Homo sapiens: one gene and its partners. The protein of the gene in region 2 interacts with the protein of the main gene of each other region in a pairwise test. Each region holds a gene or a part of one and is shown on either strand. Other genes may lie near its edges. The genes, in order: ANKS1A, RANBP3 and CHN2.

Region 1 (3,500 bases), on a different chromosome or scaffold from region 2:
TAATTAATTAAGATAGTTTAGTGGAAGACCCAGAAAACTGCTATGCTAGTGGATAGTTGCATTTTATCTTGTTTTTGCATTCTCTTAGAAGAGCAGGAACTTAGATCAGACAAATTCAAATCCACAAGATCTGTTTCCAGGCCCTTCCATTCTACAATCCTTACATGGTCAGTGTTGCCCTCTTCCTTAAGATGTTAAAATCATTTTGCTCAAAATAGGCACTTTCAAAAGAAATCTGGCACAGTAGTGGGCAAAAGTAAAAAGGTCAGCATGAGAAAAGGCTGTCACGCCATTATAATCTCCAAGGTTCAGATCCATTCTGGGAATGAATAAAGGACCATTTCAATAGAATGGTTATGCTAATCACTGTTTAAAAAATAATAACACTAACAAGAGGAAGAAGTCTAGCCTGGCATGGTGGCATGTGCCTGCAGTCCCAATAGCTCAGGAGGATGAGGCAGGAGGATCAATTGAGCCCAGGAGTTTAAGGTCAGCCTGGACAACATTAGCAAGACTCCTGTCTCTTAAATTTTTTTTTTTAATTAAAAAAAAAAAAAAACCAAAGTCCTTAAATAAATATTAGGAAGCTTTCTTTACAACAATGAATTACTTGCCATATTTTCTGACATTTGGGAGAATCTGTTATTATCCTCCAAATGAGGTCCATTTTTCAAAATTTTTCATGCTTCATTCCTTATTTCAGAACATTTTCACATCTTGGGAAATTCATATCTGTTTTGGAATAGTTTTCTTTTTCTTTTATTCCCCCAATGAAATGGCAGCATAAAAATTAGTTTAAAGCCACATTCATTGCTACTATCTATAAATTTTCAGATTCTCCAGCAAGTCTCCTTGGCTTCCTCTTTTCTTATTCACCCTTCTCATGCTTGAGAAATTAAGCATAAAATATTCCTAAACCATAACATAATCTCCTCAACTGTGATCTTCGGTTTAGTTTCTCTGTGCTTCTGAACCCTAAGAAGTACATTTCACTTTACTTTTCCATTCATATACATCAGTATTTAGTTCATAACTCAATTTACAGTTTGAAGCTATTGTGGCTGGTTTTCTTTTTTCTTCTTTTTTTGGGGGGTGGTGGTGTGAGGACGTGGTCTAGCTCTGTCACCCAGGCTGAAATGCAGTGGAACAATCTTGGCTCACTGCAGCCTCAACCTCCCAGACTCAAGCAATCCTCCCACATCAGCCTCCCGAGTAGCTGGGACTACAGGTGCACACCATCACGCCTGGCTAATGTTTGTATTTTTCGTAGAGATGGGATTTCAGCATGTTGCCCAGGCTGGTTTCAAACTCCTGGGCTCAAGTGATCCAGCTGCCTCAGCCTCCCAAAGTGTTGGTATTACAGAGGTGAGCCACTGTGCCTGGCCATGATTGGTTTTAACATTTCCTTTTCTCAGATCTTTTTGGCCTTTTAGTTGATAGAATTTACTTTTAACCAAATCTTACAATATTCTTATACAGGAGTTTCTTTCTTGGAAATCAGTATTTCACTATAACTCTAAACATAGCAAACTGTCTTGTTACATGAGAATCTGAGTGCCCGCTACGTGCCCAGAACTAAAAAATACTGTAAGTTAAGAAGTTTGATAGAATGCCTATCCCAAGCTCCCAAGGTATAGACCGAAGGCATGCATCCATTAAACAATCAGAAAATGAGTTAGTATTATATAAAGTATAATCCATGCAATCCAGAGCCTCTGTAAGCCTAGACATTCTGGATAACTGTGCTTTCTAGATAATCTATTGCTTATCCTTTTAAGTAAAAAAATTATATTTAAACCATTTTGGATAGAAAACTATATTTTTTTTCTTCTTTCACTAACAAGCTATATTGAACATAATTTAATCTTTATTTGATGGCTAACAGTCATAATAAACATAAATCATAGCACAAAGATACAGTAAACTGATGCTTGGGGCTTACATAGGTATATAGGGCTATATACACCTATGTTAATAGCTTCAAACAGCCGGGAGGTAGGATAAATTATGCTAAATTTGTGTGCTTTCTCTGTCTCCTTTTTGTTGGCCTGTTACACAGACGTATCATACTACTATAAACTCTGTAAGGGAACAGAACATGTATGAAGAGAGGGGCTAATTCTGACAGACCACGTACAATGTCCCAGGTCTCAGACATATTTTGCAGTGCATCTAGCAATCACTTGGCCTGGCACAAAGTATATCATGGGTAAACATTGGGTATATGAATGATTCCTCTCCCTTATTTACTCTTTCTAGTCTGCCATGCTTGGAAAACAGATCCCCAAGCATGAAAAAACACCATTTAAAATGTGTCAGGCAGGGCACTGTGGCTCACACCTATAATCCCAGCACTTTGGGAGGCTGAGGCAGGAAGATCGTTTGAGCCCAGGAGTTTGAGACTAGCCTGGGCAACATAGTGGGACACGATCTCTACAAAAATAAAAATAAATAATGTGTCTGGCATGGTACTTTGCACAGAACAGGTGCAACACAGCAAAACCGTATGTGCTGAACTGAGGATGACTAAGACTGAGGACTTAGAATATGCCAGGAATTATGGTAAGTCCCGTACACACATTATCTAAGATGATACCTATAAGGCAGATAGTATTATCCCCATTTTACAGATGCAGAAATTGAGTATCAAAGTGGTTAACTTGAATAATGTCAAGCAGCTAGTCAGTGGTGGCAGTGGAATGTGAATCCAGGAAGTCTGACACAAAAACAAGTGGTCTTAATGCTATAACATGCTTAATGCTAAGAAAAAGTGGACAGTATAATGCTATACTGTTCCTGAATAAATATCCAGTAAATAAGGAAGGCTAGAAGAACACAAAGTTTGTAACAACATGTTTTTCTAGTAGAAGTCTTCTTTGCTGACTTTCTGATTCTCAGGTATAGCATCAATCGGTGAGGGTTGCTATATGTAAACATTATACTGACAGGCCAAAGCGATCAACTGTGAAAGCTAGGCAAGCAAAGTACACTACAGATGACGTGCTCCAAAGACATGGAAGCTTGAGAGATCTGTGTGTATTAGGGTCATCAGGAAGGGCTTTAAGAAGTTAAAACCTAAGCCCAAGCTGTGTAGAGGAAAAGGGATGGGTAAGAGAAGAGGGCATTTTTTAGCTTAAGAATAAACACAAAGCCTTTGTGGAATACGGGATGGGGGAACACAAACAGGTGAATACACAAACACATGTGTGGTCTGGAACAATTATTCCACTGCAACTGTAAGCTCCTATTTCTGCCAGCTTTACTTCAGGCAAGTTACAGTTGGCAGTACAAATAGGGGTAGAATATGGCCGCTAATACAAAGGCCAAATCTGAAGCTATGATTCCACAGCTCTCATTAAATAATCCAGGGTCTTTAGGGGAGAGAGGGTTGGGAGCAGAGGTAACCTACCCTTCACTATGTCCACATCTAAAAAGGGAGGACATACTGACCTAGGCATGGTCTCATTTGCTCAGAAATCTTTTACTAGCTTTAACCAGAG
Region 2 (3,732 bases):
CAGGATGGCAGTTCCCTTGGAGAAGGGGGGATTAGAGAGGAGTACGGGGTGGGCTGCGGGAGGCAGGGGCTGACACTCAAGGTGCATGCGCTTTCTGTGTGTGTGAGACATCGGCCTCCATGGGAGTCCACGTCCTCCTGACTGGCCTCCCCTGAGTGGGCCAGCCCTGCCCTCTGGTTTCCTTAGGAGAAGGCAGAGTAGGACCGCAGCTTAGCGCTTCCATGGAGAGGAGACGAGAGGACTGTGGGCAGCAGATTACGGAGGAAAATGGGAGGGCCCTGACTCTTCTAGAGGATGCAACACCCCTGCGCCTGGCCTGGGCCCACCCCGTGGACTCAGCCAAGCCCCTACCTTCCTGCCAGCCGCCTCTCCCCACTGGAGCAGGCCTGGAGACGGTCAGAAACTTGTCCCCCTGCCCTGGCCCAGCGAACAGACCTCCCTGAGCCCAGGTGCCCACCTCAGAGGCCGAGTGGGAGAAAGACAGAGGTGATTTTGCTCTCCCTGAAGCTGGGGAGGGTACTGCTGCCACGGGGCTACAGGCTGATGACCCAGGCAGAGGGGATGACCTGGGGGCTCAGGGCTCTATGCCCTCTCTTTCCATGGACATTTGAACATTTCCACGAGACAAAAGGAAAAACACAAGAAGACGTCCATAAGGCTGGGCACAGTGGCTCAAGCCTGTAATTCCAGGACTTTGGGAGGCCTAGGTGGGCAGATCACCTGAGGTCAGGAGTTCGAGACAAGCCTGACCAATGTGGAGAAACCCTGTCTCTACTTAAAGTATAAAAAAATTAGCCAGGCTTGGTGGCGGGTGCCTATAAGCCCAGCTGCTCGGGAGGCCGAGGCAGGAGAATCGCGTGAACCTGGGAGGTGGAGGCTGCGGTGGGCCGAAACGAAGCCACTGCACTCCAGACTGGGCAACAAGGGCAAAACTCCGTCTCAAAAAAAAAAAAAAAAGACGTCCATGGGGAACAAAAGAGCAGTCCCAGCCTGCAGGGACATCCCCTGTCTGTTCTGACCAGAGCAGTGTTTCTGATTGAAGTGCATGAACACTACCCTTCAAGGGGGCTGCTTGAGTTACTGCTGGGCCTGAAACCCATATTTATGAAAAGGCCAGAAGACACTTTGATTTGGGAAGATAAAACAAAAAGATGGTCCCAGCGCAGTGGCCCACGCCTGTAATTCCAGCGCTTTGGGAGGCTGAGGTGGGAGGACTGTTTGATGCCAGGAGCTCAAGACCAGCCTGGGCAACACAGGGAGACCTGTCTTTATAAAGACAAAAATAAAAACATTAGCCAGACGTGGTGGTGCATCTGTAGTCCCAGCTACTCAGGAGGCTGAGGTGGGAGGATCACTTGAGCCCAGGAATTTGAGGCGATGATCACACTGTATTCCAGCCTGGGTGATGGAGTGAAATCAGCTTTAGAAGGAAAAAAAAGACACGCCCACATTTCAAATGTGCACACACACAGGCTGATTTCCTTAAGTGGGTGTGTGTATGCAGGTACTCCAAGCTAAATGTCCACCAATAGGGAAAAGTCCATTGACTGTCAATGGAATATTAACATGAAAGCTTTTCAAAAACAGTATATTTTATTTTTTTTTGAGATGGAGTCTTGGTCTGTCGCCCAGGCTGGAGTGCAGTGGCTCAATCTCGGCTCACTGCAATCTCCGTCTCCCAAGTTCACGCAATTCTCCTGCCTCAGCCTCCCGAGTAGCTGGGATTACAGACATGTATCACCATGCCCGGCTAATTTTTGTATTTTTAGTAGAGACAGGGTTTTGCCATGTTGGCCAGGCTGGTCTTGAACTCCTGACCTCAGGTGATCCGCCCACCTTGGCCTCCCAAAGTGCTGGGGTTACAGGCGTGAGCCACTGCGCCTGGCCAAAATTTGTCTTTATCAAGAGATTAGACTTGATGTTTGATTTCATTTTCCTTTCTATCATAAACCTGCCACTTTGTCAGAAAATCAGCTTAAAAACTTCCATAGACTTTTGTCCATTTTGACACTAAGAGGGTCACGGACGAGCTGGCAGCTGGAGCCAGTGTGTGAGGGTGGTGTTGAGGGCTGGGTGCAGGGAGGGGGTTTGGGGGGCGGCTCTCATGGGAGACCGACTCTGTGCCTTGACTCTCACAAGGGTAGGGTCAGGATCTCCCCCGCTTCATTCCCTTTGGAATTGCATAGTCCCCAGCCCTCCCCATGGGGACCCGGCCACAGCCCCCGCCGTCGGCAGCTCACCTAGTCGGGACTGTAGTGTGCCGTCATCGGTGGACGCCATGTCATTGAGTCTGAGCAGCCCCCGGCCTCTCTCCACCCAGGACTGTGAGGTCTTGTCAAAGACAAACAGCTTGCACTGCATCTGGAACACAGTGGCCGCCGGTAAGCAGGGACCCCAGCTGGTGTCCTGCTGCAGCCACACCCTGAGAGTCGCCCTTTAGCCTGTGGGGACTGCCAGGGCCAGCCAACGACGGCCTGGGGGCCACCTTGGTCAGTTTTTTGTCCTGCCCTCAAGCTAGAACAGGCTTTACATTGTATAAGGGGTATCTGAAATTAAAAGAATCACTAAGGAAATGAAAAGCAAAACAACGGTGAGAAGCCTCTCTGCGCACTCTAGGACGGCTATACCCATGTGGGGAAGCTGGAACCCTCACACACTGCTGGCGGGAAGGCCGCATGGTGCCACTGCTGTGGAAGAGTCTGGCGGCTCCTCAAACTGCTTAACAAGGAATTACCACATGCCCAAGCAATTCCATTCCTCGGTATGTACCCAAGAGAAATGGAACATTTGTTCGTGTTCACACACAGATCGCACATGAACGTGCACAGCACCATCATTCACGGTAGCCAAGTCTCAAGGAGGAATGGAGTGACACACATGGTCCGCCCCTACAGCGCATCTCACTCAGTCTTAATAAAGAACAAGGCTCCGACCCCCGCTGCAACGTGGATGAACCTCTGGCTCAGCGAGAGAAGCCAGACACGAAAGGCCACATAGTGCGTTGATGCCATTTATATGAAATGTCAAGGACAGGCAAAAAACAGAGACAGGAAGTGGATCTGTGGCTGCCAGGGGCTGGGGAGGGAGGAGGAGTTACTGCGAATGGACAATGCTCTTTCTGGGGGAATGGGACAGTGTTCTTTTTGGGGGCAGAAATGTTGTACGTTAGATTCTGGTGAAAGTTGTCTGACTCTGTGAATATACTAGAAACCACGGAATTGTATGCTTTAAAAGGATGGATTATATAGCATTTGTACTATATTTCAATACAGCAGTTTTGTATATATAAACAAAGAAAAATACGAGACAGACACCCCTACATGGCTTTCCACATACCCCCTAAGTCAATCTCTTTCAACATGAACAGATGACAAAGTGGTAAGTGGGAAAAAAGAACAGTGCTCTTAAGAACGCCACGATACGCCACCCGGTTTACAGACACAGACACCTGCTTATGTGCCACGGGAGAGGAAGCACATGGATGCTGCCCAAGCCGGGTGGTGCGGCCTGAGGAGCAGGAATGGGGGATGCCAGGAGGGGACGGTGGGGTGGAACCTCTGGCCGCACCTGATCTTTTCCCTACGAAGACACCACAGGATGCCAGGTGACAAATAATACAGTTGCCAGCTCTGGGCGACAAGAGAATATGTTTGGTATGACAGTCTTTGTCATTCCCTGAACCATCAAAAATGTCTCGGGCTGGGCGTGGTGGCTCACGCCTGTCATCCCAGC
Region 3 (3,732 bases), on a different chromosome or scaffold from region 2:
ACATGCAACTCAACAATGACAAGGAAATAGGAAGATTGCTATGCTGAAGAAGTGTGGAGAATGTGGGGGGATGTGGAAAAAGGAAGTGGAGCTCTGAGGTTAGCTTGGGGTAGTCAGCGAGGCTTCCTCAAGGAGGAAAGGCTTGAGCTGACCCCTGATTACAGGTGTTTGCCAGGCAGAGAGGTGAATACATTTCAGATAGACAGGACAATGTGAGCCAAGGCACTTCTTCATGGCAACAAATAGGGTGTATTTCAGGATTGCTGGAGTGTGCAGTACAGTAGGGAGGAGGAACTGGAGAGAAGTCTGAAGAGAGAGGGAGGGCTACCTCACTGATTTCACATACCACACTACAAAGTAGAGGCTCTATCCAGTAGGCTCTATCCAGTAGGGCTTCCATGTCTTGACTGGCTGTACCAGAATTATTTGGATTGCTTATTAAAAATACAGATTCTTGGGCTTATCCAGCTTTCTGAATGAGTCTTCAAGTTGGGTCCCAGTGACCCATATTTTTAACAGGATCCCCAGGATGGCCATGATATCTGACTTAAGAGATAGTATGTTCTAGAGAATATACACCACAGTTATAAAGAACAAAAGCAGTTCCCTCCTACATGTCCACTGCCTTCCCCTACATTAGTGCTGGGGGTGCCCTCCCATCCCTATGATCCCTTCTTTGGAGCTTTGAGAGAATGAGAAGAATGGGATTCTGAGACAGGGGATGCAGATGGGTACTCCAATGCCATGTGGATTGTCTGCCCATTGACAGTGATCACTTATCAATGGCTGTGAAGGTAACACTTCACCCAGTGAGGCAGAAACATGAGATTTGTAAGCCATTATTCCTCCGTTTCTTGAAGAACAACTCTTAGTAGTTCTGAAACCCCATTTCTACTATGATTAAAACCTACTTCCAATCGAGAAGGGTGTTAGGATGTCAGATGGCATTCAAGAAAGTACAAGCTTACCTCTGTCAAATGCCATTTTGACATCTTCAATGTGTTCAGTGAACCCAGAGACTCTGTAAAGGCCTTCCGATTTTAATCCTGTTAGAGAGAGAGAGAGAGACTGACTTTAGCTTCTTGAAACATCTAAAAAAAAAAAAAAGACTAATTTCACGTCTATACTACATGCTATCAGAAAATGAGCAAACATAGACAGTGATTTTATTTATCACACACTGTTGCATCAGAACTTGGACTTGTCTGTCTCAATTTCCCAGGCAAGTCTGTTCTCATTTGCCCATGTAGCAGTGGAGATCTCAATGGAAATCCAGTCTTCATCCTTCCCTGCTTTGCAAAGAGAACTGATATTTAAGATTCCCATGGACCGTTCCCTTACTTCCTTTCCTGTGTTCATGAGCTTGATGGACATGAATTTCGTCATCGTAGGAAGCAACCTGGCTTTCTTCCTAGCATCATCTTTATTAATTTTTGTGGGTACACAGTAGGTGTATATATTTATGGGGTATATGAGATATTTTGATACAGGCATAAGATGTGTAATAATCACAGCAGCGCAAATGGGGTACCTAGCATCATCTTAATCCATGTGCTATATTGTATGTAGCACTGTACTAGATACACACATGTATGTATGTGGGTATCTAATCTGTATTACTCTGATTGTATTGGAAAAAATTAGACTATTACAGCCTTTCATGTTTACTTGTAAATAAGACTATGTTAACTGTTTAATTAAAAACGGTTACTTGTTATACTTTTAGACAACTGATTATACAAACAGATGCAGGAAAATAAAGTTTTGGTTATTGCTTCTGGAAATTGGATCACTGCAAATTTAGGCTAAGAAAAAAAGACATGGTTTCTGTCCCTGGAGCTTATTGATTTGTTAAGATATGTCCTAAAAACGAGTCAGTTCCCAAAAGTATGAGCAGGGATAAAGGACTGGGTTTCAGACTTTGTATGTCACAAACTAGCTGCTATCAAAACTATAGCTACAGTAAAAATGAGCAAACAAATAGCCTCTGCTGCTGCCGCCATATATTCTGCCAAACTCTTGATAACTCACATATTCTCCTGTTTTTTCATTTGGAAAACATTTATGGAGTATGTATTATCTGCCATATATAAGGGTCTTCATTAGGTATGCATCAGAGACAACAAATACGTGGCGTAAATCACGAATACTTCCCCTCATCCCTCCTGTGACCATGACAGATACTCTTAGTTGATCTCAGCCCTTTTTCCCACTGAGCCCTATTTAGCCTCAGAATTCATCTCAGTTCCAATTGTTCAGGTGACCACTACTGATCAACTGGAGTTGCCACACAAGACGAAACCTGTGGGTCATCCTGTTCTAAGATGTTGGTGCATATGAGCACATCTCATTCCAGTTGGAACATGCACTGCCACAGAGGCACAGACCCAGTGGATTATGGGAGCCCCTAGCAGTGAACAATGAACCCTGCCTGTTGATGGATGAATCAAAGTTCTGGCCTCTGGTGAGGCTCTCTTTCTGGCTCATAGATGGCCACCTTCTCTCACACGTCCTTTCCTTGGTATATGTGCATGGAGAGTGAGAGAGCGAGCTTGCTCTTTGGTGTCTCTTCTCATAAGGATATTAGTCATAATGTTTAGGGTCCCTCCCTCAGGACCTCATTTAGCCTTAATTATTTCTTTGGAGACCTCCGTCTCCAAAGACAATCACACTGGAGATTAGGGCTTCAATATGTAAATTTGGTGGGGCAGGGGACACAAACATTCAGCCATAAGATTCACTGAGTCACTTTCAAAGAAATCCAGGTTTTCAAGGAACGTAGAAAAATCCATGCTTTTGTTCTCACTCATAAGTGGGAGTTGAACAGTGAGAACACATGGACACAGGGAGGGGACCACCACACACCGGGGCCTGTTGGAGGGTGGGGGTCAAGGGGAAGGAGAGCATTAGGACAAATACCTAATGCATACAGGGCCTAAGACTTAGATGACAGGTTGATAGGTGCAGCAAATCACCATGGCACATGTATACCTATTTAACAAACCTCCACATTCTGCACATGTATCCCGTCACTTTTAAAAAAAAAAATCTATGCCTTATATAATATGCCAAGTTGTATGGTTTGGATTATAATTAAATGGGGGTAATTTTCCTGACTTTAGCCCATGCTTCACTGAGCAAAGCGTCACCCTGTATTACATCGAGATGCTTTTTTAAGAAGCTAATCTTTGAAGGAAATGATAAAGGATGGTTAGAGTTTGCCAGAGTAGCAGAAGTTGCCAGCTATCCTTCCAATATTTGTTCTCCCATTCTTCTGTTGTAATGGAACCTTTGATTTTTAGAACAATATCCATTGCAGTGGCCATTAAACTCTGGCCCATGTGAGAGCAGAAGTGACATTTACAGCTTCTGTGGCCTTGAAGGAATGGAGCATGCTCTTTTCCACTTCCTGTTAAGTGAAATGCAGATGAGATGGTGGTGGCCAACTGTGATTGTGCACGCAGGATAGCACTCAAGCAGGACAGAGCAACAAGCTGCAGTGCCTGGGTTCCTGCCACGGTGGAACAGACTATTCCTGGACTGCTCCTGGGTACCTGGACTATTACTGGGCAAAGAAATAGATTTCTATCTTGTCAAAGGCACTGTTACTCAGGGTCTCTGTGACAGCACTGAGATGTACAGGCTACATAATATAGTTAGACAGATTTGGAGGTGGAGGTATGGGTGTGGGTCATTCCAAGAAAAGGCAAAATTAACATAGATTGAGTTCAG

What was found.
Region 1: the proteins of RANBP3 (region 2) and ANKS1A interact in a two-hybrid assay, tested with the Homo sapiens proteins (one large-scale study listed by BioGRID and IntAct).
Region 3: the proteins of RANBP3 (region 2) and CHN2 interact in a two-hybrid assay, tested with the Homo sapiens proteins (one large-scale study listed by BioGRID and IntAct).

The regions. Positions count from the first base shown.
Region 1 is NC_000006.12:34,892,255-34,895,754, reverse strand, and holds part of ANKS1A (ankyrin repeat and SAM domain-containing protein 1A), read right to left. Parts: intron 1-3,500. UniProt on the Homo sapiens protein: Regulator of different signaling pathways. Regulates EPHA8 receptor tyrosine kinase signaling to control cell migration and neurite retraction.
Region 2 is NC_000019.10:5,918,961-5,922,692, forward strand, and holds part of RANBP3 (ran-binding protein 3), read right to left. Parts: intron 2,362-3,732; coding exon 2,241-2,361; intron 1-2,240. UniProt on the Homo sapiens protein: Acts as a cofactor for XPO1/CRM1-mediated nuclear export, perhaps as export complex scaffolding protein. Bound to XPO1/CRM1, stabilizes the XPO1/CRM1-cargo interaction. In the absence of Ran-bound GTP prevents binding of XPO1/CRM1 to the nuclear pore complex.
Region 3 is NC_000007.14:29,502,058-29,505,789, reverse strand, and holds part of CHN2 (beta-chimaerin), read right to left. Parts: intron 1,047-3,732; coding exon 969-1,046; intron 1-968.